Regions from separate parts of the Homo sapiens genome. Here region 2 is linked to region 1. Evidence: fine-mapped expression QTL. A gene starts in region 1. The other region holds a variant in brackets. All regions are shown on one strand. Distances are from middle to middle. Region 1 holds the start of HIC2 (HIC ZBTB transcriptional repressor 2). Region 2 has its middle 5.2 kb from the start of TMEM191C.

Region 1 (5,363 bases):
ATACTGGTCTGAGAGGGTATAATTATTTTAAAATATTTTTGGGGCCAGGTGCGTTGGCTTATGCCTGTAATCCCAGCACTTTGGAAGGCAGGAGGATCACTTGATCCCAGGAGTTTGAGGCTACACTCCAGCCTGGGCAACAGAGTGAGACTCCGAGTCTCCAAAAAACAAAAAAAGACAAAAGAACCCCAAAAAAACAACTTTTGGCTCATACCGCCAAACTCATGTCCAGGAATTTTGAGGTGATTTATGTGCTTCCAAAAGTATATGAGAGTGATTACCTATCAGACCTTGTGTTTGAAGGTTATCACTTGAAACTGATTTTTAATTTGTTTAGGAGAAAACCCAGCTTCTTATAGTTTTATTTTATTTATTTATTTATTTTTTTGAGACGGAGTCTCGCTGTCGCCCAGGTTGGAGTGCAGTGGCACGATCTCGGCTCACTGCAGGCTCCGCCCCCCGGGGTTCACGCCATTCTCCTGCCTCAGCCTCCCGAGTAGCTGGGACTACAAGCGCCCGCCACCTCGCCTGGCTAATTTTTTGTATTTTTAGTACAGACGGGGTGTCACCGTGTTAGCCAGGATGGTCTCGATCTCCTGACCTCGTGATCCGCCCGCCTTGGCCTCCCAAAGTGCTGGGATTACAGGCGTGAGCCACCGCGCCCGGCCTATAGTTTTAATTTATATGTCTTGGGTTAGTAGAATGGTTGACTTTTTTTTTCAGTCGTTCCTTCAAATAGTGAGTCCTCTGCTAGGCTCTATTTGTGGAATATTCTTGTTCTTCTTCAGGGATGTTTGATAGCTCTTTTTTTTCCACAGATGTTTGATATTTCCTTTTTCATCTATTGTGTTCTTACCATTTCTAGGATGTTTCTAGGCTTTCTATTCTATTTCCTGTTCTGTACCACACTGAAATGCCTGCGGTAGCTTTACAATTTGTTTTGATATCTGTTAGGGCAAGTCTACCCTCATGCCTGCTTTTGTTCCCAAGGGGGGAAAACCATAGCTGTTTTCGGCTATTTATTTTTCCAGGTGAACTTAGAATTTTGTGAAGTCTAAGAAATGTTGTTAGGATGACATTAAACCTATACATCCATTAGGAAAGAAAGGTTGCATCATCAGCTTGGCGAAGGGTTATTGAAACTGGTTTTTGATCTTGACTGGAGCTGGGGCACAACTTCCCTGTAAGGCAGACCTGGGCTCCTCTTGGACTTGGGCGACCTCGATAGTGGTGTGTTCCTTTGTTTGGTGTTCAAAGTAGAGAGCGGTCCATTAACTAGCTCCCTAGAGAAGCAGTGGCGGCTCAGGCCAGCCCAGCCCCTGGGAAGGCTATCTGCATGGCGGCCGGGAGCCCGGGTCCTGGTGGGCCGGCTCGGGCAGGCGCTTGACCCCTGGGGCCTGCGAGGGGCTGCGGCCACCGGAAGGGGCTGGCTGAGCGCAGCGTGCTGGGTCCTCCGCGCCCTCGGAGCAGGTAGGGTTCGCGGGGGTGCGCCCGCGGGGGCCCGAGGGGCGCTGGGGTCACGGGAGGGGCGCCCCTTCTCTTTTGCACCCAACCAGCCCGGGCTTCCCCAGGAGCCCAGACCCCCGAGCTTGCAGTCACTGCTGGCTGCGCCTTTGAGCCTCGGGCAACCGCAGGGAGCGTCGAGCAGGGGTCGCAAAGGGGTCGGGGAGGGGGCGCGTAGGCCGATAGAGGTCCCTAATTCGGGGCTCCTAGGGGTCAGGGTAGGGCTAAAAGGGGGTAAGTCCACCAGAGTTTGAGGGGGTGGGCGTCAGCCTGTCGGGGGGGGCCAGGGTCCCTGTCCCGGGGGCCGGTATGCGGTCCGGGTATTTCAGGGGCGAGGTCGCGGTCCTGCCCTGGCGCTTGAGGTCGGAGTCCGGTTAGATGTCCGGGGTCTGGGTCCCCGGCTCCTCCCGCGCACCCCTCCCCCACGGCGCCGGACCCCGGCAGCCCGCCCCGCCTAGTGCTGGGACCGCTGTCCGGCCCGGCCCCGCCCCCGCAGGCCCCGCCCCTGTTCACAGGCCACGCCCCCAGCTGCCCCCTGTCCCCGCCCCGCCGCTCGCCCATTCAGATGTGGGTCAGGGGTGAGCGGGCGGCGCCGACGTCACAAGCTTCCAAGATGGCGCTGGGCGGGCGGCTGTGAGCGGCGCTCGGGGCGCGCTAGGCGGGGAGCCGAGCCGGGCTGGCGGCAGGCGGACGGGGCGGGCGCGTGCGGCGCGAGCCGGGCGCTGAGGACAAGGGCCGCTGGTAGGGCCGGCCGGCCGGCGGGCGGAGCGCCGCCGCCGACGCACACGAGGTGAGGGGCGGCCTTGTGGGGCGGGGGGCGCGGGGAGCGGGCGGGGGCCGGGGCCGCGGGCTGGGCGCGTCCCCGGGGAGAGGGGCGTGGACGCGCGCGCGCCCGGGCGACGTGGGACTGCGCGCGTGGGGGACGCGCTAGCGTCTGGCGGGCCTGGGCTGGGGCGCACGCGGGACCCCTGGCAGGCCCGGGCTTTGTGGGCCAGATGCCCGGAGGGGCGCGGGCGGTGGGGCACCCGGGGCACAAAGCCCACCGGGCCGCGCCAGGCCCAGGCGGCGCGGGTCTGCGGAGCGGGGGTCGGCGGGCGAGCGGGCGCCGGCTCTTTGTGCCTTTTCATTAGCAATCTAATCCGAACAGCGTCGGGCGAGCTGCGCTGCCTGACAGGCGGGAGGGCTCCCATTATGCAAACGGCCCTGCGCCCGCGTTCGCCCCCTCGCTAGAGGATTTTGCGATTTCCAGGACTGCGGTCCTGCACCGTCTGCGGTCTCCTCTCCTCTTGCCTCCTCCCCGCGGGAAGACTGGCCACGGCAGGGGCAGGGGCGGGCCTGGAGGGGCCGCTCCCAGAGGGCCGGGCTCTGCGGCTGGTGGGCTCGCTGCCCTGCCCCCAGACCTCTCCTGTAGGCAGCCGCTTGGCAGGAAGAGAGATGGGCTTGGGGGAGGGGGTCGGCTTTCAGGGGGAAGGGACCGGCTGGCTGAGGGAGGGGGCTGAGGGGCCCCAGCTTGTCACTCTCTGTTTATCTTCCAAGATGGTTCATATTCACACAGGCCTGGGTGTGTGCGTGGTTGGGGGGGGTGGGGGGGAATGCCTCTCCCTGGGGGGCAGTGACTTGCTGAGAGGAGGGAATGAGGCCAGATAATGCTCCCAACGGCCCCACCCAGAACTGCCTGGGACTGCCTGTGTAAGGGAGCCCAGTGCTGAGCCGGATGGGTTGGAGCGGTGTTAAAGTTATTTATCCATGTCTTCTCCTGTCCCCCGCACCCCTAGTCTTTTCTAGTAGGAGTTGCCAAGCACATCTGGAAAGCTGTGTTCCCCGACCCCCCACTCCCCCAACAGCAGGAGGGGTGTAACCCAGGGAAGCCACCCCTCTGACATATGTGCTGGGGGGAGGGGCAGAGCCTTGCCCCTAGGAATCCTGTGGCGGTGGGTTGTTGACTGATGTGGGATTGCTGTGTCTCTTGTGCTGTCGGAGAGCTGGCAGGTAGTGGAGGGGCCTTGGGAGCTCCTAGGCTGAACTTGGGGCTGTCCTCCAAGGATCCAGGATGGAGGGATGGAGCTGGGTCACTCAAACCTAAGGCCTTTCTGGGTCTAGCATTTATTGCTTCCTGGCTTCTGGCTTGGCTTCTTTTCGTCCATTCTCATCTGCCAGTGTCTGGACTCCCTGGGCCTTCAGGCAGGCATTTTCAGGAGCACAGGCCATGTGGTTGGTCTGGAGCCCTGTGTCAAGGAGAGTGTGCGTGCTTGGTGGAGCAGGGTTGCTGGAGTAGTGTGAAAAAAAGCAGATGAGCTGGCCTCTGGAGACAAAGCTGTGTGGCAAGACTGCTGGTTTAGTGGGCTCTGAACACCAAGAACAGGGCCGGGAGTCTGATACTTGGGGGCTGAACTGAGTCCTGTGGCGCAGGATTGTTGCCTGGAAGTGAACGTTCCGTCTTGTGCCATTGAGACTGTGAAGATCTCTGGGTCCCACAGGACGAGCAGTAGACTTGGAAGGCTGGGAAGAGGCTCCCCAGCTGCCTGCCTTGGGAGGTCAGAGCTCTCAGGTGGGTCGGCAGGCCAGTGTCGGGCTGGGGGAGGGAGGTTGTAGTAGAGTGCCTGTGGCCCAGCTTCTCTGGTCAGTTGGCTCTGAGTGCTGCTGTGTGCCCAGCAACCTCTCCCTGCGGTGTTTTTCTGCCAGTTGTTGGAACTTGTAGATTAGTCACTGAGTTTTTACGACCGATTCCTGAAAAGAAAAATCTCCCTCTGGTTGCTGCCTCTGTGTAGAGGAAGAAGCAGCCCGAGGGAGTCAGGCCTTTAATTAAAGCAAAACCGAAATGATTGTCGAAGTTGCTGGAAGGAGAAGAGAAGGCGCAGGTGGGGCAGGGGTGATGAGTCCTGTTGTGCTGCATGATACCTGCTCTGGGGACAGGTAGGCACGATCCCATCCTCGATCCTTGGTCTTGGCCAGCAGCCCAGCCTTCTCCACAAGCTGCAGTCGCAGATTAATCCTCACGTAGTGTTTTCTTTCCGTAGATCAGATTTCTCATTTTGTTAATAAGCGCAGCCTCCCATCCACTTGAAGTCAGCTGTTGTGGACGAGGAGCAACAGGGTTTTGCATTATTGAGCTGATAGCCTGCCGCCTCCCCTCAAGTCCTTATTGTTTGCGGGGTCAGATCTGAGGGGTGGGGAAGTGCCATTTAATCAGCAGCCAGCCCCTGGAGAAGAGCTGGCGGGGCAGTTCTGGAGAGTGAGAGCCGTGAGGAAGGAATAAAGTTCAGTTTACCCAGGGGACTTGTGGTTCCAACCTTATTGCTTGGTCTGTTGGCCTGGAGCAGTCAGCCCCACCCCATACCTTGTCCTGCCCGCTGCCCCCAGTACCTGATCCCTGGGAGAGTGGGGCACTTCTTCTGGGCTGCTCTTGCTGGCCTGGGAGGCAGCTTTCACCGCGGGAAGAAAGAACACATTGGGTTCCTCCCTTCTTGTCTCCTCCGAGCCTGGCCTAGGACGGACCCCTGTGGGGCAGTGAGAGGGGAACTGGACTTGGTCGGTCGCAAAGTCTGTAGTGCATTGCTGGCTCTGCCATTTACTCCCGTCATGACCTTGAGCAGTGATTGACTCTCCTGCCGGGTTTCTACAATGGGAACAGAACTGGAGTTTACATTCATGTATCGCTGTTTTCTGGAGCTCAGCCTAGGGAAGGCAGACACTCAACAAATGATTATAAGATGGGGTGATAAGGGCTGGCATCTAGCGGAGCGCAGAGGGCATAGCGGTGGCGTGGGAGGAGCCGGCCGTGGGCTGGCTGAGAACCCTGGATGCCATGTGGGTTGGGGTTGGCCTGGAGGGGAGGGGTTTTAACCAGGAAGTGACTGCTA
Region 2 (5,363 bases), 44 kb after region 1:
TCCTCGTCTCTACTAAAAATACAAAAAAAAAAAAAAAAAAAATTGGCCAGGTGCAGTGGCTCACGCCTGTAATCCCAGCACTTTGGGAGGCCAAGGCGGGTGGATTACCTGAGGTCAAGAGTTCAAGACCAGCCTGGCCAACATGGTGAAACCCTATCTCTACTAAAAAATACAAAAATTAGCTGGGTGGTGGCGGGTGCCTGTAATACTGGGTACTCGGGAGGCTGAGACAGGAGAATTGCTTGAACCCAGGAGGTAGAGGTTGCAGTGAACCGAGATCACGCCATTGCACTCCAGCCTGGGCAACAAGAGCGAAACTCCGTCTCAAAAAAAATTAGCTGGGTATGGTGGCATGTGCCTGTAATCCCAGCTGCTTTGGGGGCTGAGGCATGAGAATTGCTTGAACCGGAAGGCAGAAGTTGCAGTGAGCCAAGATCGTGCCACTGCACTCCAGCCTGGGCAACAGAGTAAGATTATCCAAAAAGAAAAAAAAAAAATTAGCGGGTGTGGCTACACCTGTAGTCCCAGCTATGTGGGAGGCTGAAGTAGGAGGATCGCTTGAGTCCAGGTGGTGGAGGCTGCAGTGAGCTATGATTGTGTGACCGCACTCCAGCCTGGGTGACAGAGCCAGACCCTGTCTCAAAAAGAAAAGGGTCATGATGCTTCCCCAACAGGATATGGTGGGGACGCTCCAAGACCATGGGAGAAGAGGATACGAGCCGGAGCTATGGAAGAAGTGAACATGTAAGACTCCAGAGGCAAACTGCCCGTCTAGACAGCTCTGGCCTGCAGAGCCCACCACTCCCAGGCCAGCGCCGTGAGGTCCTGTTGAGCCACCCACCTCACTGTGATCATCCCCAGGTAAACCCTCGGACGTGGGCCCGGTGCCCTCCTTGCTGAGGCTGAAGCCACGTGGCCATGAAAACCTGAGCATCACAAGCCGCTCTCTGCGTTTGTGGTGTGATCAGGGCCTTCTACCACAAGCCATGTGCCCAGGCTGATCCTCTCTAATGTGGAGAGGCGGCTGCGCTGGAAAGGCCTCAGTAAGAGCAGCTGGGCCCTTGCAGACAGACATCACGGTGTGACCCTCGGGACTGGCTCCCTGCGGCCACTGCAGCACAGGTGTTCACATCTCACAGTGGAGGCAGTGGACACCATGCTCGCCTGCAGGCTCTCGGCGAGGCTCTGAGTCTGGCCCCTTGCGTAGCCCCTGGTGACTCCTTGGCTTCTGGAGCGGAACTCCATCCTTCACATGGCGCTTTCCTCGAGGGCCTGTGTGCGTGTCGTCTGTGGCCAAGTTCCTACTTCATAAGGACATCAGTCATATTGGATGGGGTCCCACCCTGCTCCAATGAGACCCCATCTTTTTTTTTTTTTTTTTTTTTGAGACAGAGTCTTGCTCTGTGGCCCAGGAGGGAGTGCAGTGGCACGATCTTGGCTCACTGCAAGCTCCGCCTCCTGGGTTCACGCCATTCCCCTGCCTCAACCTCCCAAGGAGCTGGGACTACAGGCGCTCGCCACTGCACCCGGCTAATTTTTTGTATTGTTAGTGGAGACGGGGTTTCACTGTGTTAGCCAGGATGGTCTTGATCTCCTGACCTTGTGATCCACCCTCCTCGGCCTCCCAAAGTGCTGGGATTACAGGCATGAGCCACCGCGCCCGGCTGAGACCCCATCTTAATCACACCTGCAGTGACCCTGTTTTCAAGTTAAGGCCACATTCTGAGGTATTGAAAATTAGGACTCCAATATGAATTCGGGGGGACCCAATTTAACCTGTAATATGTATATCCCAAATGCAATTTTCTCCTTTTTTCTTTTAGACAGTTGCTCTGTCACCCAGGCTGGAGTGTAGCTCTTGGCTCACTGCCTCTGCTTCCCGGGCTCCCGCAATCCTCCACCTCAGCCTCCTGAGTAGCTGGGACCACAGGCGCACACCACCACACCCAGCTAATTTTTGTATTTTTGATAGAGATGAGGTTATGCCATGTTGCCCAGACTGGTCTTGAACTCCTGAGCTCAAGAGATGCACTCACCTCAACCTCCCAAAGTGCTGGGATTACAGGTATGAGCCAGCATGCCTGGCCTCCAAATGAAATTTTCAGAAAGGCCTTTTCATAATAGTAACGGGAAACAAGTGACATAGGCATAGCCTTGATAAATGTGCCAAAAGCCCATTTGGAAATAGCACATTTGTAGGAGGCCTGAGGCAAGACTTGTGGGATTGGACGGGAATGCTCTGTTCCTGGGACCAATACCTGATGATGGAGAGTGTCCATTCTTCCCTTTAAAATTTTTATTTTAATATTTTATTTTTAAAAAGGGGTCTTGCTATGTTGCCCTGGCTGGTCTGGAAGTCCTAGGATCAAGTGGTCCTCCCACCTTGGCCTCCCAAAGTGCTGGGATTACAGGTGTGAGCCACTGTGCCCAGCCCATTCTTCCCTTTTAATATATACGCTTCACATACAGGCTTTGTTTTTGCAACTCCTATCAAATCCCAACAATGTATTTGGGAGAATTTGACAAGACAGTTCTAAAGTTTATCTGAAAGAGAAGCAGCAGATCCTAAATGGCTTTCCCCAGGCCCAGCACTGGCAGATAGCACCTTTCTAACCTTCGGGTGTGAATCCAAGGGTGGTGGTGGAGCTTCAGGACACATGCACCCTCGTGTCCCTCCTCTATGTAAATGGAAGCCTTCAGTGCCAGCTCCTTTAGGTTGTAAGGACTGAACACGCTCACAGAAGTCGTGTGCACAGTGAGGTGGGGGCTGAAATGCAGCAGCTCCTCTCCCTGTGTTCTGTCCCCGCCCCACCTCTCCCCCACCTCAACTTTGACCACTAGGGGACCAATTATAACATGAGATGGCAAGAATAGCTCATGTAAAGCCACCCCACCCCAGTCACCTGGTTGCTGCATAGTGTCACATTCATAGGAGTACAATTTAGTCACTAGTAATCCTTTGCGAATAATACAAACGTCCAGTAATTCTTTGCTGCATAACAGGCCTTGTGCTCAAAAGGTTCTGCAGACCTTGCCTGGGTGCTCTGGCCAAGCTGCAGTCATCCCAGGGCTGGCTGGGGGCTGGGGGTT[T/C]GCCGGCATGCCTGCTGGTTGGTGCTGCTGCCAGTCCCAGCTACTCGGGAGGCCGAGGTACGGGGACGGCTTGGTCTCAGGAGGTTAAGGCCGCAGTGAGCCATGATCGTGCTATTGCACTCTGGCCTGGGCAACCAAGCAAGACTCTGTCTCAGAAAAAAAAAAAAAATAAGGGGGTGAGAGGGGCTATAAAGGCTCTGAGGTCCACGCTCTGGAGGCCCACAAAGTCTTTTCTGCATCATCTTGTTTGTCAGAGCAAGACCCAAGGGTGAGCCTAGATTCCTGAGCTGGGGAAACAGGCTCCACCTACTGGTGGTGAGAACTGTAGACAATCTGTGGTCGTTTTGAGTCCACTATAAGTAACCAAAATACCTTCAGTCTTGCTTGCATTTCTCAACATTAGTGAAAGGGGACCCAGTGCTTGGTTGTAGCAGGCGTCCTAAACTCTCCTTCTGACCTGCAGAGTTTTCATCTGCAGAATGTCCCCTCCTGGTGCACAGCATTCATGTCCCTTGTCCTCATCCCTGGTGGGTGCTCTCGCCGCCTCCTTTCTGATCCCATCCTCCTCCTTGTCCTACCAACCGTCTGTACTCACCCTGTGTATTTAGTTTATATAAATGTTAATGCCTGGCCAGCCGTGGTGGCTCACGCCTGTAATCCCAGCACTCTGGGAGGCTGAGGCGGGCGGATCACCTGAGGTCAGAAGTTCGAGACCAGCCTGGCCAACATGGTGAAACCCCGTTTCTACTAAAAATACAAAAAATTAGCTGGGCATGGTGGCGAGTGCCTGTAATCCCAACTACTCGGGAGACTGAGGCAGGAGAATTGCTTGAACCCTGGAGGCGGAGGTTGCGGTGAGCTGAGATCATACCATTGCACTCCAGCTTGGGCCACAAGAGTGAAACTCTGTCTCAAAAATAAAAAAATTAAAAATAAATGTTAACACCTGTAGTCCCAGTGCTTTGGGAGGTCAAGGCAGGAGGATCACTTTAGCACAGGAGGTCGAGGCTGCAGTGAGCTGGGATGGCGCTACTGCTCCCCAGCCCGGGCAACAGAGTGAGACTCGATCTCAAAAAAAAAAAAAAAAAAAAAGACCAGCGGGGGTGGTTCATGCCTGTAATCCCAGCATTTTGGGAGGCCAAGGTGAGTGGATCACTTGAGCCCAGGAGTTTGAGACCAGCCTGGTCAACATAGTGAGACTTCATTTCTACAAAAAAATAATCAGCCATGCTGTAGTCCCAGCTACTGGGGGTGCTGAGGTGGGAGGATTCCTTGAGCCCAGGATTTCAAGACCGCAGTGAGCTAGGATCAAGCCACTGAAGTTCAGCCTGGGTGACAGAGCAAGATCCTTTCTCTCTAACAAAAAATTAAAATTAAAAAATATTGGCCAGGTGTGGTGGCTCACGCCTGTAATCCCAGTAACTTTGGGAGGCTGAGGCAGGTGGATCATTCGAGGTCAGGAGTTCGAGACCAGCCTGACCAACATAATGAAACCCTATCTCTACTGAAAATACAAGGATTAGCCAGACGTGGTGGTGGGCGTCTGTAGTCCAGCTACTTGAGAGGCTGAGGCAGGAGAATCACTTGAACCACCACGCCCAACCTAATTTTTTTTTTTGTTGTTGTTGTTAGTAGAGGCAGGGTTTCACCATGTTGGCCAGGCTCATCTTGAACTCCTGACCTCAAGTGATCCACCTGCCTCAGCCTCCCAAAGTGCTGGGATTACAGGTGTGAGCCACCGCGCCCGATCTGAAGACATTTTTGATTGGTTGATTGAGTTGGGGGTCTCACTGTTGCCCAGGCTGGAGTGTGGTGGCATGATTATAGCTCACTGCAGCCTTAAACTCCCAAGCCCAAGAGATCCTCCCAGCTCAGCCTTCTGAGTAACCGGGACTACAGGTGCACACCAGCACACCCAGCTCATTTTAAATTTTTTCTTTTTTTTTGAGATGGATCTTGCTCTGTCACCCAGGCTGGAGTGCAGTGGCGCAAGCTCCGCTCACTGCAAGCTCCGCCTCCCGGGTTTATGCCATTATCCAGCCTCAGCCTCCCGAGTAGCTGGGACTATAGGCACCCGCCACCACGCCCGGCTAATTTTTTGTATTTTTAGTAGAGACGGGGTTTCACCGTGTTAGCCAGGATGGCCTCGATCAGGAGATCGTCCATCTTGGCCTTCCAAAGTGCCGGGATTGCAGGCGTGAGCCACCGCGCCCGGCCCCGTAGTTTCTTACATGTTCACAAAGAGACAAACTTAAAAGAGCAAAGCATTACGA

The links. PIP is the estimated chance that this variant, and not a neighbour inherited with it, causes the effect.
Region 2: its variant is fine-mapped to the expression of HIC2 in blood mononuclear cells (TOPMed, PIP 0.95).

Annotation. Positions count from the first base shown.
Region 1 is chr22:21,415,268-21,420,630 of GRCh38, forward strand. It overlaps HIC2 (HIC ZBTB transcriptional repressor 2), which reads left to right and starts at 2,104. Exons shown (of 3, transcript NM_015094.3): 1 at 2,104-2,293.
Region 2 is chr22:21,459,487-21,464,849 of GRCh38, forward strand. No RefSeq gene overlaps it. Among named protein-coding and RNA genes, the nearest start is that of TMEM191C, 5.2 kb to the right of the region's middle. The variant T/C (reference allele first, on the strand shown) is at 3,091.